Linked DNA regions of Homo sapiens: all the other regions are reported to be linked to region 3. Evidence: microRNA targets listed by miRTarBase, many of them from high-throughput screens and not tested one by one. Region 3 holds a microRNA gene; each other region holds the end of a gene's coding sequence.
Evidence for each region. Region 3 holds the annotated microRNA hsa-miR-890 (UACUUGGAAAGGCAUCAGUUG, at 1,183-1,203, shown strand). A microRNA usually pairs through its seed, bases 2 to 8, with sites in the 3' UTR of a target mRNA and lowers its output. Matches are read on the target gene's strand: a 7mer-m8 pairs with bases 2 to 8, a 7mer-A1 pairs with bases 2 to 7 and ends in A, and an 8mer does both.

Region 1 (4,062 bases), not on the chromosome of region 3:
AGAAATGTTTTAATTATCGTAAGAAAGCATCCCCAAAGTTGGCAGCATTAGGCAAAAATTATTTCTTACATTTCTGGTTTACAGGGCCTAAATTGGGGTCTGTTGCAGAGTTGTCTGGCATTGTCTGAAGGCTCCCTCTCCCTTTCAGACACTGAGTGTGGCAGCTTACAGTACGACTGCACTCAGTTTTTCATTCCCCATTCTGTGGAACAATACATTCCTGCATGCTGCAACATCACTTGCAGTTACTTCCTGCAAGAGAAATATACTTCCCCACCTCAGTGACACTGGGCTTGGCAAGGGATTCATCTCAGCCAGTGGATGTATTAATATATGCCACTGTGCTTCCACCAGCTTTTTAATTTCCTTCTATAAGAACAGCATGTTCCAAACGGGCTGCCCATCAGCCTGGATCCTGGAATGAAAAAGACATAGAGCAGGGTTGCAGCCAACCACTGCCATGCAACTGAGTGAAAACATTGGTTGTCATCAAGTCTGAGATTTGGGCGTTACTGTAGCATTTGTGACCCTTAGCAAAGCTAACTAATGTGCTAAAAGTCACAAACTCAACACCTGCAGACAAGGAAAGCAAGTGAGGCAGAGGGTGTGTGAAACTATGGGGATGGCAGGGCTAAGGCAGATGGGACCAAATCAGCCCAAGGATAAGCTCCAGTATTAAACGTTGTTATATGAGTTAAAATTTTTAAAGCTGCTGATTTGGTTAAACACCAGGTCATGATTTTAATAACACAGCTAATATTTACTTCCTGAAAGCTTAATATAGTTGAAAACAAAAAATATAATGACCCAATCTCTTAATGTTTTCCTAATCATTTAACTTTGTAGGTTCTTTTAGGCACCAATCTTCAGTTCAAAAGAAACAATCTTCTGAAACTTGTTTGTTTTTTTTTTGTTTTTTGGTCTTTTCTAAAAGTGAAAGGGAATTATTTTTTATGTTAAAAGTTCTCTCTAGAAATGTTTTGAGTTAGCTTCCCAAACATCGATATACAGAAATGTGGCACTTAGCAATGGAGATACATTCTGAGAAATAGGTGATTTTGTCGTTGTGCAAACATTAGAGTGTACTTACACAAACGTAGATGGCATAGCCTACTATACACCTAGGCTACATGGTAGAGCCTATCGCTTCTAGGCTATAAACCTGTACAGAATGTTACTGTACTGAATACTTACTGTTGGAAACTGTCACACAATGGTACTGGTGTATCTAAAATAGAAAAAGCACAGTAAAAAAAACCAAACAGTATAAAAGATAAAAAATAGTACACCTGTATAGGGAGGGCACTTACCATTAATAGAGCTTGCAGGGGTGGAAGTTGCTCTGTGTGAGTCACTAAGTGAGTGGTGGGTGAATGTGAAGGCCTCAAACATTACTGTGCACTACTGTAGACTTTACAAACATGGCACATTTAAAGTAGGCCACACTAAATTCATTTAACAATTTTCTTTCTTCAGTAATTAACCTTAACTCACCGTAACTTAACTTTACAAACTTTCAAACTTTGACTCTTTTGTCAAAGTTTTTTGACACTTAGCTTAAATTTAAAACACAAACATCTTGTAAAACTGCACAAAAATATCTTTATATCCTTATTCTGTAAGTTTTTTCCTATTTTAAACTTTATTTTTCTACTTTTTAAACTTTGTTAAAAACTTAAGACACAAACACACACATTAGCCTAGGCCCACAGGGTCAGGATCATCAGTATCACTGTCTTCTATCACCACATCTTGTCTCACTGGAAGGTCTTCAGGAGAAATAGCATGAATGGAGCTGTCATCTCCTATGATAACAATGCTTTCTTCTGGAATACCTCCTGAAGGACCTGCCCAAGGCTCTATTAAACATTTTTTTAATAAGTAGGAATAGAACACTCTAATTATAAAAAGTAAATACACAAACCGGTGTCATTTATTGTCATTATCAGTATTACATACTGTACATAACTGAATGTGCTGTACTTTTATACAACTGGCAGTGTAGTAGGTTTGTTTACACCAGCATCTCCACAGACACGTGAGTAATGCACTAGGCTATGACATTAAAACGGCTAAAACATCATGAGGCAATAGATTTTCTGCTCCATTATAATTTTATGGGACCACTATTGTATATGTCATTATGCAGTACATAACTGTAATCTTCTGCAAAACCAGTCAAATCTAACCATGCCACAAAAATAACTACCACCATCTGTCTTAAAGAACGTGACTCCTATATGGATGGAGATTAACAAGGGCATAGATCGATTCTATAGAATATTTCATTTAATTGATTTTATTATAACTGGATTAGGTCTGAGCCCTGGGAAACAGACATCACCTTGTTATACAGAATCACACATTATAGTTTTAACTGAAGTTGTTTTTCATATAGGACAATCATAAATATGAGTATTACAAGAGCTGACTACATACTTTCAAGTTTATATTTCCTGACAAAGGATATGACCTTTTTCCATCCTGTAATTCAGAGAAAAAGAACCACTTGCCCTATATAAACTCTAAAAAGAAAACTGCATAAACCCAGGAACAGGGGGCAAGGAGTGCTCCCCTTTGACCTACTATTAGCAGGTCCAACAAATGATATATCACCACGTCTATGAAGAAATTTCTTTCTATAAAAGCACAAAATTTAAATCGGATTTGACTTTACATATTAGGGCTTTCATCTTGATGAGAAACTCATAACAGCAGCAGCTCAAACTGATTGTTAAAAGGAAAAAACACAGGGCAGATTAATAATGCAACTTGGATCTTCACTCTTCTCTTTCCAATTCAAATGCTGGAATATGACACTCTTTTTATAATATTCTGCCCATGAGGTTCTCTCCCTTCTTTTCTGCCTTCAGAGTCCTTTCCAAAAGGAAATTACTGCCTTGCATTCTACATTATTCCTAATTTCCAGGTGGAAAAATGAGACAAATTAAGTGACTTCTAAAAACACTAGGAACTGTATTTTTTAAAAACAAGACAATACTTCAGATTTTCTTGCTTTAATTCTTCTCTATATTACCACAGTAAAATATTTAACAAAGTCCAAGAGATTACTGATATGCAATAATGACCTATGACTTTACATTAATGGAGTGATGTATCAATAATAAACTGATCAGTTAAGTAACTGGAAAATGTTTGCATGTAAAGAATGATTCACTATCCTTTTTATCTTGTATTGAAATCGTCAAAACATTTAAAAACACAAAGTTGAAGTAATTTTAAATAATAATAACTGTGAAATACTGCAACATCTTGAAGTACTTTATAAATGACCAAAAACAGGTAAAATTTTGTTCAGTATAACTTCAGTGAAGAAGTTTTTTGACACAGAACTACATATATTTTTAAATTGGTAATCCACATAAGATATACACAAAACCTTCAAGTGACTACATTGTTCAATAAATAAAACTCTACATTGTTTTGTTTTTACAGCCTAGTGAGCTTATAACTCAGTAACACCCTTTTAAGAAATTCTAGTCTACAGAATGACATGTCCAAATTGTTTGGTCCTATTAATTTCTTTAGCAAAAACCTCCAATTCCTTTATATTTAATTCCTCCACATATCATCTTTGAAGGGCCTGACTAATAAATCACAAGTGTAACCCTCCAGTCTCCAGTCTGGGTTTTTCATGAGTTTCAGTTCAGTGTAAGCCAGCACACTGACCTCCCCATGAATTTTCCACAGTACCTACTTTATTTAACACTTTCCACAAAGTATCCTGTCCTTCTAGGCTTTTTGTAGAATGTGAAGTTAATAATGGCATGTGGTGTTCCTTAGCATGACCTGCCAAAAAGTGATGATCTCCTTGGAAGAAAAGCCATGGGCTGCAATCACACGTCTCAGTTGACAGACATCCAAATGGATTCTATATAGAAAGAAAAGATTTGTGTCTTCTGGAATATGAATGTTCACTTTTAATAAATTCAAACAGATCCCGACATAAACATCTTCAAACTTGATGGGTTTTACGTGACCCATCATTTCATAGATCCTTGGCACCAAATCTCTGGACATTATATAACCCAACCCACTGCA
Region 2 (4,067 bases), not on the chromosome of region 3:
GGGAAACAGACGCAAGAGCTTGCCCAAAGGGTTGGCGGCAGGGCTGGGACACTGACCCCTGACTCCCACGTCACCTCCCTTCTGCCCCTCAGTACACAGCCCAGGGGGAGCCGTTCCCCAACAACCTGGACAAGCTATGTGGCCCCAACGTGACGGACTTCCCGCCCTTCCACGCCAACGGCACGGAGAAGGCCAAGCTGGTGGAGCTGTACCGCATAGTCGTGTACCTTGGCACCTCCCTGGGCAACATCACCCGGGACCAGAAGATCCTCAACCCCAGTGCCCTCAGCCTCCACAGCAAGCTCAACGCCACCGCCGACATCCTGCGAGGCCTCCTTAGCAACGTGCTGTGCCGCCTGTGCAGCAAGTACCACGTGGGCCATGTGGACGTGACCTACGGCCCTGACACCTCGGGTAAGGATGTCTTCCAGAAGAAGAAGCTGGGCTGTCAACTCCTGGGGAAGTATAAGCAGATCATCGCCGTGTTGGCCCAGGCCTTCTAGCAGGAGGTCTTGAAGTGTGCTGTGAACCGAGGGATCTCAGGAGTTGGGTCCAGATGTGGGGGCCTGTCCAAGGGTGGCTGGGGCCCAGGGCATCGCTAAACCCAAATGGGGGCTGCTGGCAGACCCCGAGGGTGCCTGGCCAGTCCACTCCACTCTGGGCTGGGCTGTGATGAAGCTGAGCAGAGTGGAAACTTCCATAGGGAGGGAGCTAGAAGAAGGTGCCCCTTCCTCTGGGAGATTGTGGACTGGGGAGCGTGGGCTGGACTTCTGCCTCTACTTGTCCCTTTGGCCCCTTGCTCACTTTGTGCAGTGAACAAACTACACAAGTCATCTACAAGAGCCCTGACCACAGGGTGAGACAGCAGGGCCCAGGGGAGTGGACCAGCCCCCAGCAAATTATCACCATCTGTGCCTTTGCTGCCCCTTAGGTTGGGACTTAGGTGGGCCAGAGGGGCTAGGATCCCAAAGGACTCCTTGTCCCCTAGAAGTTTGATGAGTGGAAGATAGAGAGGGGCCTCTGGGATGGAAGGCTGTCTTCTTTTGAGGATGATCAGAGAACTTGGGCATAGGAACAATCTGGCAGAAGTTTCCAGAAGGAGGTCACTTGGCATTCAGGCTCTTGGGGAGGCAGAGAAGCCACCTTCAGGCCTGGGAAGGAAGACACTGGGAGGAGGAGAGGCCTGGAAAGCTTTGGTAGGTTCTTCGTTCTCTTCCCCGTGATCTTCCCTGCAGCCTGGGATGGCCAGGGTCTGATGGCTGGACCTGCAGCAGGGGTTTGTGGAGGTGGGTAGGGCAGGGGCAGGTTGCTAAGTCAGGTGCAGAGGTTCTGAGGGACCCAGGCTCTTCCTCTGGGTAAAGGTCTGTAAGAAGGGGCTGGGGTAGCTCAGAGTAGCAGCTCACATCTGAGGCCCTGGGAGGCCTTGTGAGGTCACACAGAGGTACTTGAGGGGGACTGGAGGCCGTCTCTGGTCCCCAGGGCAAGGGAACAGCAGAACTTAGGGTCAGGGTCTCAGGGAACCCTGAGCTCCAAGCGTGCTGTGCGTCTGACCTGGCATGATTTCTATTTATTATGATATCCTATTTATATTAACTTATTGGTGCTTTCAGTGGCCAAGTTAATTCCCCTTTCCCTGGTCCCTACTCAACAAAATATGATGATGGCTCCCGACACAAGCGCCAGGGCCAGGGCTTAGCAGGGCCTGGTCTGGAAGTCGACAATGTTACAAGTGGAATAAGCCTTACGGGTGAAGCTCAGAGAAGGGTCGGATCTGAGAGAATGGGGAGGCCTGAGTGGGAGTGGGGGGCCTTGCTCCACCCCCCCCCATCCCCTACTGTGACTTGCTTTAGGGTGTCAGGGTCCAGGCTGCAGGGGCTGGGCCAATTTGTGGAGAGGCCGGGTGCCTTTCTGTCTTGATTCCAGGGGGCTGGTTCACACTGTTCTTGGGCGCCCCAGCATTGTGTTGTGAGGCGCACTGTTCCTGGCAGATATTGTGCCCCCTGGAGCAGTGGGCAAGACAGTCCTTGTGGCCCACCCTGTCCTTGTTTCTGTGTCCCCATGCTGCCTCTGAAATAGCGCCCTGGAACAACCCTGCCCCTGCACCCAGCATGCTCCGACACAGCAGGGAAGCTCCTCCTGTGGCCCGGACACCCATAGACGGTGCGGGGGGCCTGGCTGGGCCAGACCCCAGGAAGGTGGGGTAGACTGGGGGGATCAGCTGCCCATTGCTCCCAAGAGGAGGAGAGGGAGGCTGCAGATGCCTGGGACTCAGACCAGGAAGCTGTGGGCCCTCCTGCTCCACCCCCATCCCACTCCCACCCATGTCTGGGCTCCCAGGCAGGGAACCCGATCTCTTCCTTTGTGCTGGGGCCAGGCGAGTGGAGAAACGCCCTCCAGTCTGAGAGCAGGGGAGGGAAGGAGGCAGCAGAGTTGGGGCAGCTGCTCAGAGCAGTGTTCTGGCTTCTTCTCAAACCCTGAGCGGGCTGCCGGCCTCCAAGTTCCTCCGACAAGATGATGGTACTAATTATGGTACTTTTCACTCACTTTGCACCTTTCCCTGTCGCTCTCTAAGCACTTTACCTGGATGGCGCGTGGGCAGTGTGCAGGCAGGTCCTGAGGCCTGGGGTTGGGGTGGAGGGTGCGGCCCGGAGTTGTCCATCTGTCCATCCCAACAGCAAGACGAGGATGTGGCTGTTGAGATGTGGGCCACACTCACCCTTGTCCAGGATGCAGGGACTGCCTTCTCCTTCCTGCTTCATCCGGCTTAGCTTGGGGCTGGCTGCATTCCCCCAGGATGGGCTTCGAGAAAGACAAACTTGTCTGGAAACCAGAGTTGCTGATTCCACCCGGGGGGCCCGGCTGACTCGCCCATCACCTCATCTCCCTGTGGACTTGGGAGCTCTGTGCCAGGCCCACCTTGCGGCCCTGGCTCTGAGTCGCTCTCCCACCCAGCCTGGACTTGGCCCCATGGGACCCATCCTCAGTGCTCCCTCCAGATCCCGTCCGGCAGCTTGGCGTCCACCCTGCACAGCATCACTGAATCACAGAGCCTTTGCGTGAAACAGCTCTGCCAGGCCGGGAGCTGGGTTTCTCTTCCCTTTTTATCTGCTGGTGTGGACCACACCTGGGCCTGGCCGGAGGAAGAGAGAGTTTACCAAGAGAGATGTCTCCGGGCCCTTATTTATTATTTAAACATTTTTTTAAAAAGCACTGCTAGTTTACTTGTCTCTCCTCCCCATCGTCCCCATCGTCCTCCTTGTCCCTGACTTGGGGCACTTCCACCCTGACCCAGCCAGTCCAGCTCTGCCTTGCCGGCTCTCCAGAGTAGACATAGTGTGTGGGGTTGGAGCTCTGGCACCCGGGGAGGTAGCATTTCCCTGCAGATGGTACAGATGTTCCTGCCTTAGAGTCATCTCTAGTTCCCCACCTCAATCCCGGCATCCAGCCTTCAGTCCCGCCCACGTGCTAGCTCCGTGGGCCCACCGTGCGGCCTTAGAGGTTTCCCTCCTTCCTTTCCACTGAAAAGCACATGGCCTTGGGTGACAAATTCCTCTTTGATGAATGTACCCTGTGGGGATGTTTCATACTGACAGATTATTTTTATTTATTCAATGTCATATTTAAAATATTTATTTTTTATACCAAATGAATACTTTTTTTTTTAAGAAAAAAAAGAGAAATGAATAAAGAATCTACTCTTGGCTGGCTCTCCGGAGTGTACTGATGTGGGGAGATGGGCTGGAAGGGCTGGGACTGTCCCTGTCCTGGGCACCAGCCAAGTGGGACTCAGCGAAGGGTGGAGGAGGGTGGGTGAGGGGCACCTGGCATAGGTGGGGGCAGTTAGGTGGTATTTTGGCCAAGGCAGAACAAGGTGGGTGGTGTCTAGATCATGGGGTGCCCCCAAGGAGAGAGATGGATTGCTCAGAGGTAAAGGGGGTGCTGGGCACGGTGGGTCACTCCTGTAATCCTAGCACTTTGGGAGGCTGAGGCAGGTGGATCATTTGAGCCCAGGAATTCGAGACCAGCCTGGCCAACATGGTGAAACCCTGTCTACAAAATATACAAAC
Region 3 (4,067 bases):
GGGTATTCTTTGGGACTTATGAATAAGTTAAGTTCGGGGTTCAGGCGCCATGCTGTGTTGAGGGGAGTGGTGAAAGCTGTAGGGTATAACTGTGCAAGATAGGGCAGTACCTCCACAATCAGCCATGCTGTGTGCAGTGCCCTGCCCAGAAATGTGTCAGTCGCCCAGATTATATGTCACTAGTTCCTTTCCAGGTAGAGTAAGGCACACCAAGTATAAGTTTGTAGTGGCCTTTGGACCCATGATAGTGTAGAGTTGCAAGAGCCTTCAGGTACCTTCCCTGAGACCAGCAGATCTTAGTTGGCCATGTGGACCTCAGGCATCCTCAAGATAAGTTAAGTGGCTTGTCCCTAACAACATGAGCACCTACAGGTTATAGATCAGAAAGGCAAGATGAAGATAATTCCTACTAGAAAAATAGAAAATGGGAACAATCTTGCTCTCTTCTGGTCCTGGCAATCATCCAGATAAACATAGAGTAGGTGAGAGATTCCTCACTTAGGGAGGCATATACCTTGGAGGGCAGTGGGCTAGACATGATCCAGGACTGATGAATAAATAAGTTCAGGGTTCAGACATCATGCTGTGCTCAGAGGAGTGATGGAAGCTACAGGTGGAGAACACGCAAGATGCGACAGCACCTCCACAATTAGCCATGTTGTGGGCAGTGCTCTACTCAAAAAGCTGTCAGTCACTTAGATTACATGTGACTGACACCTCTTTGGGTGAAGGAAGGCTCACCAAGTACACTTTTGTGGTGGTCCTCAGACTGGTGAGGGGGTAGACCTGCAAGCAACTTGAGCTGCCTTCATTGATCCCAGGAGAACCTTGGAAACCACCTGGAATTCAGGCATCGTCAAGATGATCATTTCTAACAACGTGAGCACCTACAAATTAGAGAAGGCAATGACAGAAAAGATAGTTACTTCCTAAAAGGAGAAAACAGGAACAATCTTTTCTTGTCTTGGCCATCATCCAGGTGAACATAAATCAGATAAGAAGGTCGTCACTGAGGCAGGCATGCCAAGTTGGAGGGCAGTGGGCTGGAAATTCTCTAGGAATTAAGATTAAGTTCAGGGTTCAGGCATCCTGCTGTGTTGAGTGGGGTGATGAAAGCTGCAGTGCACGATGGTGGATGATGGGGCAGCACCTCTACAATCAGACATGCTGTGGGAAGTGCCCTACTTGGAAAGGCATCAGTTGCTTAGATTACATGTAACTATTCCCTTTCTGAGTAGAGTAAGTCTTACCAAGTACAAGTTCATGGTGACCTTCGGACAGGTGATGCAGTGGAGTTGCTGGAGGCTTTAGTTGTCTTCAGTAAGGCCGGGAGATCCTAGCTGGCCACCTGAACCTTAGGTGTTCTCAAGGTGATTTCAATGATGCATTTCTAACAATGGAAATACCTATTTTTCAGAGAATAGAAAGATAGAAGAAATGAAGATACTTCCTAATAGAAGAACAGAAAACGAGCTTGTTCTCTCATGGTCCTGGCAACCATCTGGGCAAATATGGAGCAGTGAGCATGTCTCATTGAGTGAGACATGCGTCATGGAGGGCAGCAGACTGGACATTCTCCTGGACGGGGGTTGACCTTGCAAGATGGGCCAGCACCTCCGCTATCAGACATGCTGTGTGCAGTGTCCTACTTAGAAATGTGCCAGTTTCCTAGATTATACATCACTGGTTTCTTCCTTGGTAGTGTAAGGCTCAACAAGTATAAGTTTGTAGTGGCCTTTGGACCCATGATAGGGTGGAGTTTCAAGAGCCTTGAGGTACCTTTCCTGATACCAGGAGACCTTAGTTGGCCATGTGGACCTCAGGCATCGTCGAGATATTCTAAATCGTCTGTCCCTAACAACATGAACACATGCAGGTTATAGATGAGAAAGACAAGATGAAGATAATTCCTACTAGAAAAATAGAATGAGAACAATCTTGCTTTCTCCTGGTCTTGGCGATCACCCAGGTAAACATAGAGCAGGTGAGGGGTTCCTCATTTAGGGAGGCATGTACATTGGAGGGCAGTGGGTTAGACATGATCCAGGACTGTTGAATAAATAAATTCAGGGTTCAGGCATCATGCTGTGCTCAGGAGTGATGGAAGCTACAGGGGGAGAACATGCAAGATGGGACAGCACCCCCACAATTAGCCATGTTGTGGGCAGTGCCCTACTCCAAAAGGGGTCAGTCACTTAGATTAGATGTTTCCAGCTCCTTTCTGGGTAGAGCAAGATTCTCCAGGTACAATTTTGTGATGGCGTTCAGATTGGTGAGGAGACAGACCTGCAAGCACCTTCAACTGCCTTCATTGATCCCAGGAGAGATTTGGAAGCCACCTGGAACTCAGGGATCCTCAAGATGATTTTAATGATCCATTTCTAACAATGTGAGCACCTACAGGTTAGATAAGGTAATAATAGAAGAGATAAAGATACTTCCTAAAAGAAGAAGAGAGAACGGGAACAAGATTTTTTTTCTTCTCGTCTTGGCCATCATCCAGGGAAACATAAATCAAGTGAGAAGGTCTTCATTGAGGCAGGCATGCCAAGTTGGAGGGCAGTGGGCTGGAACTTCTCTAGGACTTAATAAATGTGTTCAGGGCTCAGGCAGCCTGCTGTGTTGAGGGGAGTGATGAAACCTGCAGTGCGTGATGGTGGGTGATGGGGCAGCACCTCCACTATCAGTCGTGCTGTGGGCAGTGCCCTATTCAGAAAGGTGCCAGTCACTTAGATTACATGTCACTGTTTCCTTTCTGAGTGGAGTAGGGCTTACCAAGTACAAGTGTGTGGTGGTCTTCAGACAGGCGATGAGTTGGAGTTGCTGGAGCCCTAAGTTGTCTTCAATGATGCCAGGAGATCCTAGCTGGCCACCTGAACCTCAGACATCCTCTAGATGATTTCAGTGGTTCATTCCTAATAATGAGAATACCTATATGATAGAGAAGAGAAGGATAGAAGACGTGAAGATACTTCCTAATAGAAGAACAGAAAAACAAGCTTGTTCTCTCGTGGTCCTGGCAACCATCTGGGTAAACATGAAGCCAAGTGAGAGTGCTCTTGCTGAGGGAAACATACATGATGGAGGGCAGTGGGCTGGACATTCTCTAGGATGGGGATTCACATTGCACGATGGAGTAGCCCCTCCCCATTCGTCCATAATATGTTCCAGAAAGGTGCCAGTCACTTAGATTATATGTAACTAGTTCCTCTCTGAGTGGACTAAGGCTTACCAAGTACAAGCATATAGTTGCCTGTAGACCCCTGATGTGGAGTTCCAAGGGCCTTGAGCTGCCTTCCCTGATGCCAGGAGATCCTATTTGGCCACATGGACCTCAGGCATCCTCAAGATAATTCTACTGGTGCATTCCTAATGATGTAGACTCCATCATGTTAAAGAAGAAAGTGATAGAAGAGATGAAGATACTTCCTAGTTGAAGAATAGAAAACGGGAACAAGCTTGTTTTCTCCTGGTCTGGGCAATCATCCAGGTAAACATAGAGCAGGTGAGAGGGCACTGAGGGAGACATGCAAGTTGGGGGCTTGTGGGCTGGGCATTATTTTGAACTGATGAATAAATAAGTTCAGGATTCAGGCATCATACCGTGCTCAGAGGAGTGATGAAAGCTGCAGGGTATGAAAATGCAAGATGGGGCAGCACTTCCCCTTTCGACCATGCTGTGTTCAGGGCTATTCCCAGAAAGGTGTCTGATATGGTTTGGCTGTGTCCCCACCCAAATCTCACCTTGAATCATAGTTCCCATAATCCCCATGTGTCATGGGAGGGACCCAGTGGGAGGTAATTGAATCATGGGGGCGGTTACTCCCATGCTGCTGATCTCATGATAGTGAGTTCTCACAAGATCTGATGGTTTTATAAGGGGCTTTCACCCGCTTTGCTCAACACTTCTCATTCCTGCCGCCATGTAAAGAAGGACGTGTTTGCTTCCCCTTCTACCGTAATTGCAAGTTTCCTGAGGTTTCCCCAGCCATGCTGAACTGTGAGTCAATTAAACCTCTTTTTTCAATAGAAATTACCCAGTCTTTGGTATGTCTTTATTAGCAGCA
Region 4 (4,062 bases), not on the chromosome of region 3:
GGCCTGTGGGGGTGGGGTGGGCTGGGTGGTGAGGAGCCTCGAAAGCCAGAGCGAGAGCACCCTGGGACCTAGCCCTGGGGAGCCAGGAAGTGACAGGAGAGGACCTGCTTCAGGTACGTGTCTCCAGCAGAAGAGACAGGTGAACGGAAGGACACACAGATGGACAGAGAGCAGGAAAGGGTCCAGGGAAACAGGGAAGAGGAAAAAGGCGTTTCGGCAGCACTTGGACGCGGTCACTGTGGTCATTGCCGCACCTTGGCTGCAGGGGGCTGCTTGCCTGGGCCCACAAGACCAGACCAACAGAAAGTGCCTCTGCCCAGGAAACTTACTGCCCGATGCTGGGAAAGAAGGAAATGTCTTCATTAAATCATCAAAGTGAGGGTGCGCAAACCACCCTGAAGCAATTCTGACCGAGAAGATGCTGCATCAACTTGGGGTGGGGGGACAACTGAGCCCCTTGCGTTTCCGTGGCGACCTTACTCTTCTGTCCTCCCAGGCCAAATATCAAAGTTCGAGAGGCCACAACTATGTCAGTCAGGGTGTGTGGGAATCAGCTGGCACATTGCAGGAGGTAATATGAGGACGATTTAATCAAGGACCATTTACAGAGGTGGGGGTGTACGTGAGGCAGTACAGCTCTAGCTCAGAAGCTGGTAACAGCTGGACACCACACCCACCCCCGCAAACATATCCTGGAGGCCCGAAGGGGCAAGGGAAGGGAGCTGTGGAGAACGACAGTCCACCATGGGCAGGTTCTCCCGTCCTGTGAAGCTTATGCCCAGCAAACCTGGTCTTCCTAATGGACCCCAATGCTGTCTGCCCGACCACAGGCTGCATTTAGTGGACCAGGCTGGGGGCCGCAGTCGGGAGAAGGGCCTTCCTGAGTACGCAAAGCTATAACTACAAGAATGGCCACTGCAGCACCATTGGCAAGAGCTAAAAGCTGGACACAAGCCGGATGGCCCGCGGATGGGGAGGGTCAAATGAACTACAATCCATCCACATGAAAACTGGGCGCTGCTACAGGAAGGAGGCTCCTTGTGTGCCATCAGGGAGAGGCCTTGGCGCCAGCTCCCTAGGAAGGCAGGCTGCCAGGCAGTATGTCCAGAAGGAGCTCACTCTGGTGAAAACAACAAACAAGCCATCAACACTAGCTGTGCAGGCAAAGGCACAGAGTCCAGAAGGAATAGTCCTGACTGTTAGCAGAGCTAACAGTCTTTCCTGCTCTCTGTCCATCTGTGTGTCCTTCCATTCATCCATCTCTTCTGCTGGAGACACTTCAGGGGCGCAGCTAATGTGGCGGGGGGGGGGCTTTCACCTTGTATTTTATATGCTTTGTACTGTCTTTGTTCACACTAAACATACAACCCCTTTAAAAGTCATTTATGGAGGCCGGACGCGGTGGCTCAGGCCTGTAATCCCAGCACTTTGGGAGGCCGAGGCGGGCAGATCACGAGGTCAGATCATCGAGACCATCCTGGCTAACACGGTGAAACCTCTCTCTACTAAAAATATAAAAAATTAGCCCGGCATGGTCACACGTGCCTGTAGTCCCAGCTACTCGGGAGGCTGAGGCAGGAGAATGGCATGAACCCGGAAGGGGAAGCTTGCAGTGAGCCAAGATCGTGCCATTGCACGCCAGCCTGGGTGACAGAGACTCCATCCCGCCGCCCAAAAGAAAACATAAAAATGAATAAAATCATTTATGGCCGGGCATGGTGGCTCACCCTTGTAATCCCAGCACTTCGGGAGGCCGAGGTGGGCAGGTCACCTGAGATCAGGAGTCCGAGAGCAGCCTGACCAACATGGAGAAACCCCATCTCTACTAAAAATACAAAATTAGCCAGGCATGGTGGTGCATGCCTGTAATCCCAGCTACTTGGGAGGCTGAGGCAGGAGAATCGCTTCAACCTGGGAGGCAGAGGTTGCACTGAGCCGAGATTACGCCATTGCACTCCAGCCTGGGCAACAAGGGTGAAACTCCATCTCAAAAAAAAAAAAAAGTCATTTATATAAAAAACTACAAAAAATATGTTGAAGGGGGAATGAATAGAAAAAGATGCCAGTGTTCTTCCCTAACTGGTATTTGGCAATCGCTGAGCTGAACATTTACAGGGCAGCTGCAGTGTGCCAGGCCCTAGGAGAGCAGTACTGATCAGAAGGCTGCCTGCAAGGTGCTCGCCATCTACGGGAAGCAACAGCACGAGACGGGTGGGATGAGTGGGCATAGCCAGGTGACAGGGGCCTGGGGCTGTGGGGCTGGTTCATAGCAGTGAGAAAACCCTGTGGATGAGCATACTGGGCAGAGAGGCTGGGGAATGTGTGGGGTATTTCTGTCTGCTCTGCATGTGCAGGAGGCGGTGTTGGAGACAGGAACATGCTAGACTTGGCAGGGCCTCTGAAGTCCTCTAAAGGTGCATGGACACCATTACAAAGGTCCTAAGAGATGTATAGGCCAATGAGAGAGGGATGGAGAGGCAGCAGTGGGCACAGGCCCAGCATGAGTGCCAGAGGAGGGCAGTGCCATGTTCAAGGGCTGCAGAGTGAGTTACCCTAGGACAGCTGTGCAGTCTGCCTCCCGCAGCACACAGGTAAATGCACTGTCCAGGTGGGCCAGAAAGGCCTGAGTGGTTGTTCTGCACATCCTGGCCCACGGACCAGGAGGGCAGGACCTAGGGATCTCAGAGGTGCCAGAGATAGCCCTTCAGCCAGAACAGGTCTAAGAGACATTTTGTCCATTGTCCTCCAGAGGTGCTGGTCTGCCCAGGAACCTTGAGCATCCGTGGCAGAAGGACAGTGAGGCCTGAAGCTCTGAGACCCAGAACCATAAGTCCTGCTGACAACAGAAAACTCCCAGGGGGAATGGCAGGTGGCCTCTCCTTCAGGTGCTGACTTTGACAAGTCCAGGTTGCCTGGAACACTGTGACGGATCCTGGGGACACATCCAAGATCGCTGGGAAAGAGTGCAGGGTTGACTGCTGATGTGGGCCATGGCCGAGTAGTATAGACCGACGCAGGAGTTTGCAGTTCTGAGGCCTCTTGAGGCCAAAGGTGACTGTCTGATGACCCTGCAAATGGACTGGCCTTTTATGGGATCACCACAGTGCCTGCACTGGCCCGGTGGTGTGGGGCTCCCAGGCAGCCAGTGGGGGCCTTTTCTAGTGCCCAACCTGCAACGGACAAGTGACTGTGCCCTGGAGCTGAGCCCGGTGGGTGGGTGGAGGGACTGGAACATGGGCCTACAGCTTGAGGGCGACACGCTGCAGAGCTTGGGCTCCAGTCTCCACACCACAGTCACGGAAATTCCTGTCCGTGTGTGTGCAGGGAGCGGAGGCCTTCCACGCAGGCCCCAGTTAGCAGCAGCCCAGGCTGGAGGGCCTCTTGCTCTCCTGGGTCTCGGGCGGACTCCCTTCCATTTCTGTAAGGAGGGGAGAAGTAATTTAGCATCAACCAGGAATCCTGTAGCTGACACTGGGCAGGGGATGCCGGCCCTGACAGTCAGAGCTGTGAGCTGAAGCTTCTGGGCCTGCTGTTCAAGGCCTGAATGGCCTGACACAAGCCAAGAGAGGGCCTTCCAGGCACTGGAACAGAGAGGGCAAAGGTGCAGACTGGGAGAGCCGGGGCCAGGACACATCTGCAGAGCCTGGGACGCCCAGCCTGGGCTATGAGGACCTCATGGATGCCCATGAGGTCCATGTGTCAGGAGAACAGGGAGGGCTAGGGAGGGTGTCTGACCTGGCAGGTGGAATCAGAGGGGCTACAGGCCTGAGGCTGCAGTGACACCCTGAGAGGAGGGTCAAAGGACAGGAGAGGGCCACAAGTTCAGGAAATGGCAAGGCCTCAGGTGACGAGGATGGCGCATGTGGATTTTAGGCCTCCAGCCTACTCCCCAGCCCAACCCAGTCACACCTATACTCACGGATTAGGTCTCCATTGCCGACCTGGAGCCGGGCACTGCTCTGCCTCTCCAGGTCCTGCAGCACCGACTGCTCGAATGCCAGGGCGGCTACGCGGCTGAAGAATGCCTTCACGTTCTCGCCTGTGGGCCCACAAGACAGCCGG
Region 5 (4,067 bases), not on the chromosome of region 3:
AAATATTGATCATCTTCTCATAGAAAAGCTATGTTTTTCTACAAAGGCCCCACTATGCCTGGCCAAGTAATTTCTTAAAACTTTATTTGGGCTGGGTGCGGTGGCTCATGCCTGTAATCTCAGCACTTTGGGAGGTCCAGGTGGGCAGACAGCTTGAGCCCAGGAGTTCAAGACCAGCATGGGCTACATGGCGAAACCCTCTCTCTACAAAAAAAGTAATAATAAAAATAAATTAAAAAATAAAAAATAAAAAATTGACTGGGTGTGGTCCCAGCTACTTGGAAGGCTGAGGTGAGAGGCCAGCTTGAGCCCAGAAGGTGGAGGTTGCAGTAAGCCAAGATTACACCATTGTACTCCAGTATGGGTGACATAGTGAGACCCTGTCTTGACAAAAAAACAAAAAAACCAACCTTTGATAAGAGAGCAAGTATCAACATTTTAAAGAACTGCACTACTATGGCAAGACAGCATAACTAGTACCGGTCAGCAGGTTCTGAGCACTGCATTGTCAGGTTCCTAGCTTTTCCCCAACCACGGGAAAGCAGCACCACTCATTTATCCAAGTGATTCTTGGGAATATATAAGTCCATGTAAAGCAGGCATCTCTGGTGTTCTGGTAGAGGAACTGGGACCATTGAAAGGTCTCATGGCTTTTGAGGGAAAGGGTGTGGAGCAATATCAGAGGACTGAATAGTCTAGGCATGTATTGACCTCTCATATTCCTTCTGTTCAGGGAGTAAGATCTAACCACTTGAGTTAACCAAGGAAAGGAGTTTGGCAGGGATTGATCAGAGACAATACTTGTCCAAGAGACTTGGTCACTTACATTATATCTATCTCAAGGAAGAATGCCTGAACTATGAATGTATTCTGCTGTGGAACCAGGATTGGGAATAGGTGGGGACCAGTTCTGGATGCCATTTTATTCTTTGTCTATGCATCTGATATATAGGCTTCTTTATCTTTAACCATCTAGTTTATACAGACTACATTCGGTCAGCCTAGGTTGGGTGAGTTAAGAAAGACATTTTAAATAACTGCCCTTAAGGATCATTTGAAGACCATCCAAAACAGGACTAGGAATTCATCTTTGTCCTCTCAAAGTTAGAAGATTTCCAGAGACTACAAATACAATAAAATTTATACCAATCAGCACAAAATGAGAAAAAGAAGGATTCTGTGCATGAATTTTCTGGCCACCTTTATTCACTATTTGGCATTAAAATATACTTTAAGAAATGGTAACTGGAGCTCTAGCTCTTGGTCTATATGAAAATGAGGACCACATACCAGGGATGGAGGGAGCCTAGGATCCTAAAGAATGTGGAACAAAACCTACATCAGCCCTGGACTGCCTCTGGTTTTCTACAGAGAACTAAACTCCTAACTGGTTCAATACACTGTTTAGCTCTCAACTGCAGCCAAGTTTAGATATTGTTTCGCAGACTTCTGCAACAGGAACATCATTTGAGATGTAATACCATCTAATAATGAGACCAAACATATTTCCCAAATATTACTAAAAGGTTGTGAATGCTCTACTTAAGGAGTATCAATCCATTAATAATGGAAATAACATTTAAAAAATACATTTACTTTAAATATTTTTATATAACACATGCATAAAGATAAATGCTAATGATATCATAAAATCTGTAGAATGTTTAATACTGATGAAAGGTTTTGTCTAAAAAATTTATTCTAATCTACACATGAGGAAAGATTAGGGTTACAGTGAAAACTGTATGCAATGCAATTTTTTATTTTTTTTTGAGACAGAGTCTTGCTCTGTTGCCCAGGCTGAAATGCAGTGGCACAATCTCAGCTCACTGCAACCTCTGCCTCTCGGGTTCAAGCAATTTGCCTGCCTCAGCCTCCGGAGTAGCTGGGACTACAGGCACATGCTGCCACGCCCAGCTAATTTTTTGTATTTTATTAGAGACGAGGTTTCACTGTGTTGCCCAGGCTGGTTTCGAACTCCTGAGCTCAGGCAATCCGCCCGCCTCAGCCTCCCAAAGTGCTGGGATTACAGGCGTGAGCCACCGTGCCCAACCAACTGTATGCAATTTCTAAAGGATCTGACATATATTTAATATAAAGTGCCTTCCTTAAAATATCTTGATGAATTCTTCAAAAATTGGCAATCTACTTGTCTTTATTTTGAGATAGAGTCTGGCTCTGCTGCCCAGGCTGGAGCACAGTGGTATGATCTCAGCTCACTGCAACCTCCACCTCCTGGGTTCAACCAATTCTCCTGCCTCAGCCTCCCAAGTACTTGGGACCACAGGAGTGTGCCACCACACCCGGCTAATTTGTTTTGGATTTTTTTTTTTTTAGTAGAGACAAAGTTTCACCATGTTGGTCAGGCTGGTCTCGAACCCCTGACCTCAGGTGAGCCGCCTGCCTTGGCCACCCAAAATGCTGGGATTACAAGCATGAGCCACCGTGCCCTGCCGAATCAATATTTTGTTATCGTTGTTGTTGAGACAGAGTCTTGCACTGTCACCCAGGCTGGAGTGCAGTGGCACAATCTCAGCTCACTACAACCCCTGCCTCCCGGGTTCAAGCAATTCTCCTGCCTTAGCCTCCCAAGTAGTTGGGATTACAGGCGGTCGCCACCATGCCCAGCTAATTTTTGTAGTTTTAGCAGAGACAGGGTTTTGACATGTTGGCCAGGGTGGTCTCAAACTCCTGACCTCAGGTGATCCACCTGCCTCGGCCTCCCAATGTGCTGGGATTACAGGTGTGAGCCACCATGCCCAGCCTACATTTTTTTTAATGTTCTGAGTACCCTCACAGCCTAATTTTCTTGAACATTTATTCTGCCAAAAGGAACTGAATTTCTAACTTTTTCTCTATTACAATTTTCATTAATCTTTTTGAATGCTTTTTTAAAATAGCTAACTTAAAAAAATCTAAGTCTCTAACAGAAATAAAAATCTCAACAATCAATTACTGGATTTCCAATATAACCTTTTACAGCATTTCAAAAACAAATCTTAATTCGGCCAGGCACAGTGGCTCACTTTGGGAGGCTGAGGTGGGCAGATCACCTGAGGTCAGGAGTTCAAGACCAGCCTGGCCAACATGGCAAAACCCCGTCTCTACTAAAAATACAAAAATTAGCAGGACATCGTGATGTGTGCCTGTAATCCCAGCTACTTGGGAGGTTGAGACAGGAGAATCGATTGAACCTAGGAAGCGGAGGTTGCAGTGAGTTGAGATTGCGCCACTGCACTCCAGCCTAGGCAACAGAGCAAGACTCCATCTCAAAAAAAAAAAAAACAAATAAAAATAAAAAAGCAAATCTGAATTCAAACCAATACCTTTAAAGAGAAATGTAAAACTCAGTTTAATTTCAAGTTTGTATAGAGAATGTATGCCACAGTTTGTATTTTATAAACACAACCTATCTTATTATAAATACAAAATAAGAAAAAGTGATACGTTAGCTGTTATGAAGGGTGAAAACATTATATAAACTTCAAAAGGCTGCTTTCTGCATCTGCATCTATGTAATTTCATGGTTCTCTACCAATTTCATTTACAGAAATAATCTCTATAGTCAAATTATTGTTCACTTTCATGCCCCAACATGGGAAGTGGTAGGTGAATATCTGTAGGAATACAATTTATTGTCTGCTCCTCCACTCAGAAGTAGCTGTGTAAAAGGAGAGAAAAAGACAAGAAAACATAAATAAATATAATTATTTCACATCATAGCTAAACCTAATTAAATACTAATGATTTTCATTACAAAAGGAATTATGGGTGAGCAGTTAACTTGCATTGAGAGTGAGTAAAGGGACCAACGTTGTTTCACTACTATACTATGATACAGTTTATTAAAACATTAAAAGCTATCATTTAAATTTGGTTGAGACATAATATGCTGTTGCACTTTCTATAAAGCATCTGCCAAGATACATAAGTTTGAAAGGGATACAGTTTTACCTATTAAAGAAAATTAAAAATTTTTAAAGGACAACACATTAATTGTATATTACAAATTATTCAAGTAGCCCTAGGCCTTATATTTGGAAAGAATTCTTAGGCAGTAAGAGCTT
Region 6 (4,055 bases), not on the chromosome of region 3:
AGCAAATCACATAGATGCATGTGTGGTCCTTCATACATCTCTGGGTTTTTGACATCAGGCTTCTGGCTTCTCAGGGCACCTGGGAAACTGATCTGTGCATTGCCTCTCCCTTCGCAGTGTGTGCTCATGCTGTCGCAGCTGCTGAGCTGTTTTTAAGGACTTCCACTTTGCAACCCAATCATCCTGGGGCCTTAGTTGCACTATCACTGACTTAGCCTGCCACAGGGATTTTTTTTTTTCTTCTAGGTTTTGAAATAAGACAAGATACTGGTATCAATAGAGTGCACCAAACATATGGAGACAAGTGGCTCCTGTTAATCTGTTTAACATATTTTTGTTTTAGGACAAGGATGTTGCTCGACTCCAAGATTTCCAGGAGCTGGAACTGGTTCTGATGATAAGTGAAAATAATTTTCTGTTCAGAAATGCTGCATCCACACTGACTGAAAGGCCTTGCTATAACAGGAGAGCTTCAAAACTGACTTACTAATGCAGCAGGGACTTTTATCACTGAGTATTATGACAGTGTGCATCACCTCTGGGCCAAGGACAAGCCATTGATCTAAATGCCTCAGATGCCCGGGAGGGCCTCTGGTGCCACTGCATAGTATATACTAACATCATTCTGCCAAGGTAGGAAGCCCCTGACCCCCAAGCAGTGGTGCCACTCTTCCAAGCCTCTTGGTGCACAGTAAACCTATTGCTTGAAGCTTTGAACAGCTGAGAAGTGGTCTGGAGAGGCAGAAGCTGAAGGTTCTATATCCAGTGTGTTTTATGTCCAGAATGTAAGAGAGTTGTCTAAGCAGCAGCTGAGAGAGAGCGGAGCCTATTTCTAGCCACTCCTGTTGACAGTGCACCTGAAGGGCTGGGATGCGTTTTTCTTGGTGTTGCATGCTCACAACTCTGCTGACATTGGGAACTTATGAGAGAGGAAGACTCGGGAAAGCACAGATACTGGACAGATGGATTCTGGTGTGGGGAAAGCACAGATACTGGACAGATGGATTCTAGTGTGACTTGTGACTGTGAGGTTTCCTATAACATATTTATAAATGTTACTCAGGTTAAAAGTATTTAAGAATACAGTTAACTAATTGTAAATATGCTGTTAACCAAAAGAGCTTTCCCTCCCTCACTTTTTCCTTTGTAAACACTCATGACTGCTTCTCTGTCTCGAGTCATCTCTGCATTAACTCCCCTTCGTGGTCACTAGAGGGCTCTCTGATGCCTTCTAAAAGAACAACTGCTTTTTTACAATGCCCCCCACCCCCACCCCGCCCATAGAGACAGGGTCTCACTATGTGGCCCAGGCTGGTCTCAAACTTCTGGCCTTAAGTGATGCTCCTGTCCTTGGCCTCCCAAAGTGCTGGGATTACAGGTGTGAGCCACTGCACCCAGCCCACTTTTTTTTTACTCTGAAGTGATTCCAGTCATATGTGTGTGTAACTGCATCCTATGAGAAGAGCACAAATATTGCTGTTCCATGTTCTCCACTTTCATTTTCCACTACAAATGAAAAGCAATTTTTGAGACTGAATCTGTTGCTATTTTAAAGGTTATTGTGGGAAACTGAGCTAAAGGAGTTAGCATCTTTATTTTTGTATCAAAAATAAAGGTTATTTTGAAATTATTAGGATTTTTACACAATTCTGAAATCTGTTGCTTTTGTAAACAAATTGTTTGATCTTAGTGATCCCCCTACTACTACCACCAATTCACTTCACAAAGTCAGTTATGAGTCTACCAGACTTTGTTCTGAAAAATAGAAACAAAACACCTGATTAAGCTCTTGAGTATGGCATAGGAATTTTTTAGAAGAATGCATTCAAGGATTCTTTTCCTTTCCTTCAGTGTCATTAATGTTAAAAGAGCAGCCACTGTTTTGTTGAAACAAACAGCTTAACTTCAGAAATAAGAACTAGCACACTTAGACAAACAGGAGAGCAGGGGTTTGAAGCCAGCTGTCGAAGAGCATCCCTGCTGTCTTAAGAAGCTTTTTCCCCATAGTGCCTATAGTTTCCAAAGAAACTCAACTTCCTAACTGTGTTAACTTAATTTTATTAGAACACTACAGTTGAGTGAGAACGTGCAGAAGATGTCAACAGAAGAGAATGTTGTGCTAAGATAATGGCCTCCTGCTGCTGCCTAAATGCTGAAATGAGGTTGAGATGTTTTTCAAGGCTAACTTCATGGACTCACTCTGTTTAGTGACTTAATTGTATCCCACCAATTACTGCTGGTGACTTACTCACCCTTGTACAGTGTTTGCATAGCAGAGTGAAGGTTACTTATTACCCTCTTTCTCTCAAGTGCTTTAAAGAAGAAACCTCCCTGGTGTTTCTTTTCTTTTTTTTTTTGAGACGGAGTCTTGCTTTGTTGCCCAGGCTGAAGTGCAGTGGCATAATCTCAGCTCACTGAAACCTCTGCCTCCCGGGTTCAAACGATTCTCCTGCCTCAGCCTCCCAAGTAGCTGGGATTACAAGCATGTGCCACCATGCCCAGCTAATTTCTGTATTTTAGTAGAGACAAGGTTTCACCATGTTGGCCAGGCTGGTCTCGAACTCCTGGCCTCAAGTGATCCACCTGCCTTGGCCTCCCAAAGTGCTCCGATTACAGGTGTGAGCCACCCGGCCCAGCCCCTCCCTTGTGTTTCAACCAATCGGAAGTGAATTTAACTAGATGTAGTAACCTTTTTTTTCTTTACTTCTAAAACAGTTACAGTTTACTAATAAAGTTAAGTCTGGTTCTGTCCTAGAGGAAATAAATTCACTATTAATTCATGTCTTAAGTTACTTGGGTTAAAACACTTTCAGCCACCCAGATTAATTAAAGTGGAGCAGTGGAGCCCCTGGCTGGGAGATGGCCTCCAGAGGAGCAGCTGCAGGGCATGTTCTGGGCTTAGCGACAGAGGCAAGCAAGGGACTGGTGTCTCTGGTGAGAGGTGGGTTTGATGTATCTCTGTCCTATGCTGGTCTCTCTTCTCCTTTATAAAATCCTCTGTGGTCAACTGACTACTGCGTATCGCAGTGGAATAAGACTGCACAGTTGCTGGTAGGTGAGTTTAAAGTCTTAATCTATGCATTCAGAGAAATATTTTTATATGCTTTGTGTAATTTATAACAAGGATTTTTTTTTTAGCTTTGTTAACTGTGAATTCACCCCTCCTCCTCCACTGCATATTTAAAGCATGTGTTCACACTGTGTGTAAACATTCACTGAAGATTTTTTCTTTGTGCATTGCTGACTGTTCAAACATAACAAGTATTATTAAAATTAAATATTAACTGACCGATCCTATATGCCTTCATTTTGGCTTCCTAAACAGCACTACAGTTCTAATCATAGGGGGTTCAAATTGTTGGACAGTCCCAGAGACCAGAAGCTCTGCAGGAAAATTAGAAGGGCCCTCTCTCCACCTGAGCCTCCTCCACATCCCGTTCATACCCTGTCAGTAGCACCTGGGGACGGATATTTTGTGCGGCGTCTTTCCTTCCAGTTCACGCAGTCGGCTTCATTTCCCTGGAGTAGCTGAGCCAGTTAGATGGAGGTCATCCCCTATTAACCACATTTTTTGATTATCCTATTTACTTTACCCAACTGAGCCTCTCCTTTGAGTTGTCAGCACCTGTCAGGGCCTCAATGAGCTCAGAAGCAAAGTCCCAAGACAGGAGAGGAAACACAGCCTTACACTTCCAGATCTTTAGCTGATACTGATGCTGAATGAGTCTGCTTTTCTGTTGGTTCAGGCCAGCTAGCACCTCACAAAGCAGACGTCAAGCCAAATTGGCCTAATAAATCAGAGAGCATAGCAGAGACCTTTTCTTAGCACCAAGGAGAGGCAGGATAATTTGGGCATTTGTGCTTTCATACTTGCTTTATCACAAGGATGGAAGTCATCTTCCATATACTCATAAACATCCTGGGCAGAAACAGCCTGCCAAAAAAATGTGATTAACCTTTAACAAATGGTCCTGCAGCACAGGCTGACCCAGAGCATATAGAAAAAACCAGTCAAAGGATCCACCTCCATCCATATCTACTGCAAGCCATTTAGG
Region 7 (4,067 bases), not on the chromosome of region 3:
ATCAAGTGATATTTATGAAATGTTTTTGTTGCTGTTTTGTTGCTGTTATGGGAACATCCATATCCTTAGAAGACAATAAAAAAGAGGATTCTAAATGCTAGATGGTTGGCTAACTTCTCCTGATTTATACTGAGTGTAAAACAAAACAAAACAAAACATAAGGTATATGTGTTAAGTAGTGACATCTTTATAGTTCCAAAGCACTCGCAGCTATTAAAATATCATCTAGCTAAAACAAACTTTTCACAATTTTTTAACAGAAAAATAATAAACCAACAACAAAAACTGATCAATGTTCTGGGTCTTGTGAGCAGACCGAAATGTTACTACAGTGTTCTCTATTGTGTGATCCTTGTCCGTGGCAACCTTAAACGTGTGCTGCAGTGCTGATGTATTTATAGGCTTAGCATGTCTGCTTTATTAGTTATCCTGGAAAGAATGCTATTCAGTTTTTTTTTTAATGTCTACATCAAGGAATGAATGCTAAATGAGCCCATTTAGCAGCCTGAAATCAAATACTGCATTTATTTTTTGAAACTCTTGGTAGCAAAAGAAAAAGCTGATTAAAATATGATTGTGTTACAATGACTAAAGGGTTAACTTCTCATTAATTCTAAATTCTTCAAAATGTACAAGCATCATAATAAAGGCTTTTGATGAGACATGACTGGTGATGATCATATGTGCCAATTTAATAATTTATTTGTCACAGAAAATTCAGATTCACTGCAATATTGTGTTCTGGCTTCCCAAAGCTGCAGGGAAATACAAGTTTTTTGTTTCTTGATTTTTGTTTAGAGACAGGGTGTCACTTTGTCACCCAGGCTAGAATGAAGTTGTATGATCATAGTTCACTACAGCCCCAAACTCCTGGGCTCAGATGATCCTCCCGCCTTGGCCTCCCAAAGTGCTGGGACTATAGGAATGAGCCACTGCATCCAGATTTTTTTTTTGTTTTTAATGTCATTTATGAGCCACCAGTTTAGATTAATTCTGTAAAGGTGTAAGATTACCAGAGGAAGCCGGGCGCAGTGGCTCACGCCTGTAATCCCAGCACTTTGGGAGGCTGAGGCGGGCGGATCACAAGGTCAAGAGATAGAGACCATTCTGGCTACCATGGTGAAACCCCGTCTCTACTAAAAATATAAAAATTAGCTGGGCGTGGTAGCCTGTAGTCCCAACTACTTGGGAGGCTGAGGCAGGAGAATCACTCGAACCCGGGAGGCAGAGGTTGCAGTGAGCCAAGATCACGCCACTGCACTCTGGCCTGGTGACACAGCGAGACTCCATCTCAAAAAAAAAAAAAAAAAAAAAAAGATTACCAGAGGATAAGTTAGATAGCTGGTAGAGAGATCACGAAAGCTATGTTTGATCTCTGGAGCAAAAACTGTGTTGAAGTTCTCCCATGGAATGGTTCCCATACAAGATTCACCATATTAATGCCTTTTCTAAGAAAAGGGGACATGGAGAATTATTGGAAAACAGGGAAGAAAGGGGAGGAAAAAAAACAACTTTGAGACATGGAAGAAAAGTAGCATTTATACAAGGAATCCATTACCTGACTTTGCAGAAGAGTAAGGAAATAATTTCAAAACAGAGATAAGAAATCAATCACATTCTTTCAAGCAAAAGATGATAGATTACATTATTTTGTTTTGTTTTAAAAGTTCTGAAACATGAAGATGTCTGTACAAACAGATTCACTATTAGGTTCTCGGCTCCCTGAGGGCTGGGACTGTCTCTTATTTACATTTGATTCTACAGTACCTAACATTGTACCTGACACCCATAGGTAGGTGCACAATACATAGTTGATGAACCAATAAACTACAGATTTTTCTATACACTACATGGGCCATATATTACATTTTTCAATGTAAAATGTAATAATTCTTTTCTATGTGTATATATGAAAGTTTCTATTAGCTAACACTAGTAACTGTAAGAGGTGACAGTAGTAGCTCAATCATATATCTTTCTCACATGATCATTTCTACCTTGAATACAATTTAATTAGAAAAACTACCATGTGCACTAATGCTAGAAAGAGTTGAGATAAAATGTATAAATGAAGAAACTTCTTGGATTACTGAAGTGCTGTCTGTTACAAGCATAACTGCCATCTTAAATTGTACATTTTTAAAGAGGGTGTGAAATATTTTTCCAAGCAATGCAGTGTTTAGTGCATGGCAAGTATATATATGAAAGTACCTAGAAATTTGGGGGATTTTCCTCCCTCATCTAAAGTAAAATAAGAACAGGTTTTTAATATTGTGTATATTTTTAAAAGATGTCTTATTATTCAGTACCACTGTTCCCCAGAAATTGCAGATGATTATGAAATTATTATCACTTTCCTTGGGAATTTATTTCCAGGTTAGATAATCACTAGACACTAGGTTAAATAACTCATTGATCCAATAATGTGTCTAGATTTTCTCAAAGTCTTTACTGTTGCTTTAGTGATCTGCAAAGAGTTAATATTTGCCAAGAGGCAGGAAAACGTGGCGAAAGAGTGCCCTTCCCAGGAGACTGGAACGTGGGAAATGAGAAAGTGTAAGTCGACGTGTGATGCTTTTCTCCAACCTTTGGTTTCACCTGCTTCTTGACACAGGACTGAAACACAAGCTATTCTGGCACGCTGCGCAGACTCAAAGTTTGCAGGACTGCCTGACACGAACAACCAGCACGACAGGAACCTGGTCTCCTCTGTGGAAAGCAGGAGTCTCCCTGGGTGGCTGGCTCTTGGACCAAGTTCTGGTCTTATCTTGCAATCTGGGAAACAGCATTTCATGCTATTTTCATATTTATTTTCCCATATTAGACTCTGTTTTTACAGTGGTAGACTGAGGGAACATGACTTTTGGCTTCACAGTTTTTTTTCTTTTCCGATCACAGTTTGTTTAAAATGTACCACTGAATATGAGCACAGGAGCCCAGCTATAGGTATGTCAACCTTAGAAATAAAGTTTCTATGGCCTATCTCATTAATTCATTGTACAAGTTTGTTGTTTTTTTTTTCTTGCCAACAGCACTAAAAGTGACATCATTTAAACTGTAGGGGTTTCACTGCTTTGTTTCATCTGAGTGATATTTGCTTTAGTGCTGCTAATACCTGACTTTTGCTGTATAAACAGTTTCAATGTTTCTGTGAGGCCACACAACATGCTTTATAATGACACGGCTGACTAAAGCTGTCTTTTATTCTGCTAACACCCTTCAAATACTGTTGACAATATCGCCTCTCAAGTGTTTCCTCCCACAAAATCTGCTGCTTATAGCACAGGCACCAAAGTCCTGCTTTTCCAATTGCACTGTACTGGCATCAGGTTAACTAGAAAGCACAAAACAAACGGTGATTAAAAAAAATAAGAACAGTATACATTCTATGTATTTACACATGTTTTTAGAAACTTCAGTTGCAAATCTGAAATGATACAAGCCACTCCCTGCAATAGCCTCTATCCTATGGAAATGCAGCTTAAGACATGACTGTTAAGACACTGAAGAAATGGGGTTATGTGGAGAGCCCATCTGAGTCAGAACTTTGTCCAGCCACTGCAGTGGCCCATGAAGATGAATCTCAATCCAGCAGGGGGTGCTGGTGACATCCTGGCGATGATACTCAGCACCCCAACCCTGAAAAACAAGAAAGGAGCTGAGTGATGGTGCCACACTTACACTCAGCCTCCAGAGCCCCAGGCAGAGCTCAGCGGGGCACAGAGCCCACACCCCAGCGTAGCTCCTGAGACCTGAGAGGGAGAGAACATGGCCTCTACCTTCCTGTAAACACAGGTCAACTCTCACACCAACCAGATGCCTTCAGATGAATCCAAATCAGTGCATTCCCTCAGGGTTCACAACTGAATACTCGGATCTAGAGAGGTTCTGGCACTCCAGTCACACGGGAAGCACTGAAAAATCATTTTCCCTTCCACAAAGGAAGAAACTTGACCTTTTGTTCACCCCTTCATGCCCAGGACAGTGTCTTGCACAAAATGGTTACTGCAGACCAGTGACTGGACCTGAAAGTGGTAAAGACAGAACTGGAAGGCGCTCTTGGTTTT

Region 1: miRTarBase lists B3GALNT1 as a target of hsa-miR-890. Seed matches in the 3' UTR shown: 7mer-m8 at 2,771-2,777.
Region 2: the mRNA of LIF is a reported target of hsa-miR-890. Seed matches in the 3' UTR shown: 7mer-m8 at 2,493-2,499.
Region 4: the mRNA of RAB36 is a reported target of hsa-miR-890. Seed matches in the 3' UTR shown: 7mer-A1 at 1,877-1,883 and 7mer-m8 at 222-228.
Region 5: miRTarBase lists WDR12 as a target of hsa-miR-890. Seed matches in the 3' UTR shown: 7mer-A1 at 3,160-3,166, 7mer-A1 at 2,273-2,279 and 8mer at 276-283.
Region 6: miRTarBase lists ANKRD40 as a target of hsa-miR-890. Seed matches in the 3' UTR shown: 7mer-A1 at 2,463-2,469.
Region 7: the mRNA of SMAD9 is a reported target of hsa-miR-890. Seed matches in the 3' UTR shown: 7mer-A1 at 1,183-1,189.

Annotation. Positions count from the first base shown.
Region 1 is chr3:161,081,982-161,086,043 of GRCh38, forward strand. It overlaps B3GALNT1 (beta-1,3-N-acetylgalactosaminyltransferase 1 (Globoside blood group)), which reads right to left. Exons shown (of 5, transcript NM_003781.4): 5 at 1,902-4,062. The coding sequence ends at 3,778. Among named protein-coding and RNA genes, the nearest start is that of B3GALNT1, 21 kb to the right of the region's middle.
Region 2 is chr22:30,240,087-30,244,153 of GRCh38, reverse strand. It overlaps LIF (LIF interleukin 6 family cytokine), which reads left to right. Exons shown (of 3, transcript NM_002309.5): 3 at 93-3,701. The coding sequence ends at 503. It overlaps LIF-AS1 (LIF antisense RNA 1), which reads right to left. Exons shown (of 3, transcript NR_149070.1): 3 at 3,616-4,067. Among named protein-coding and RNA genes, the nearest start is that of LIF-AS1, 2.9 kb to the right of the region's middle. RefSeq lists an enhancer at 1,850-2,518.
Region 3 is chrX:145,991,457-145,995,523 of GRCh38, reverse strand. It overlaps MIR890 (microRNA 890), which reads left to right and starts at 1,173; the gene lies at 1,173-1,249. MIR892C (microRNA 892c) reads left to right here and starts at 2,698; the gene lies at 2,698-2,774. It overlaps MIR888 (microRNA 888), which reads left to right and starts at 664; the gene lies at 664-740.
Region 4 is chr22:23,160,856-23,164,917 of GRCh38, reverse strand. RAB36 (RAB36, member RAS oncogene family) reads right to left here. Exons shown (of 11, transcript NM_004914.5): 10 at 3,920-4,039; 11 at 1-3,418. The coding sequence ends at 3,354. It also overlaps a transcript of RSPH14 not described here. Among named protein-coding and RNA genes, the nearest start is that of RAB36, 17 kb to the right of the region's middle.
Region 5 is chr2:202,877,277-202,881,343 of GRCh38, forward strand. It overlaps WDR12 (WD repeat domain 12), which reads right to left. Exons shown (of 13, transcript NM_018256.4): 13 at 1-3,661. The coding sequence ends at 3,584. Among named protein-coding and RNA genes, the nearest start is that of ICA1L, 7.5 kb to the left of the region's middle.
Region 6 is chr17:50,692,432-50,696,486 of GRCh38, reverse strand. ANKRD40 (ankyrin repeat domain 40) reads left to right here. Exons shown (of 5, transcript NM_052855.4): 5 at 344-3,289. The coding sequence ends at 490. Among named protein-coding and RNA genes, the nearest start is that of ANKRD40, 13 kb to the left of the region's middle.
Region 7 is chr13:36,845,181-36,849,247 of GRCh38, forward strand. SMAD9 (SMAD family member 9) reads right to left here. Exons shown (of 7, transcript NM_001127217.3): 7 at 1-3,639. The coding sequence ends at 3,496. Among named protein-coding and RNA genes, the nearest start is that of RFXAP, 28 kb to the left of the region's middle.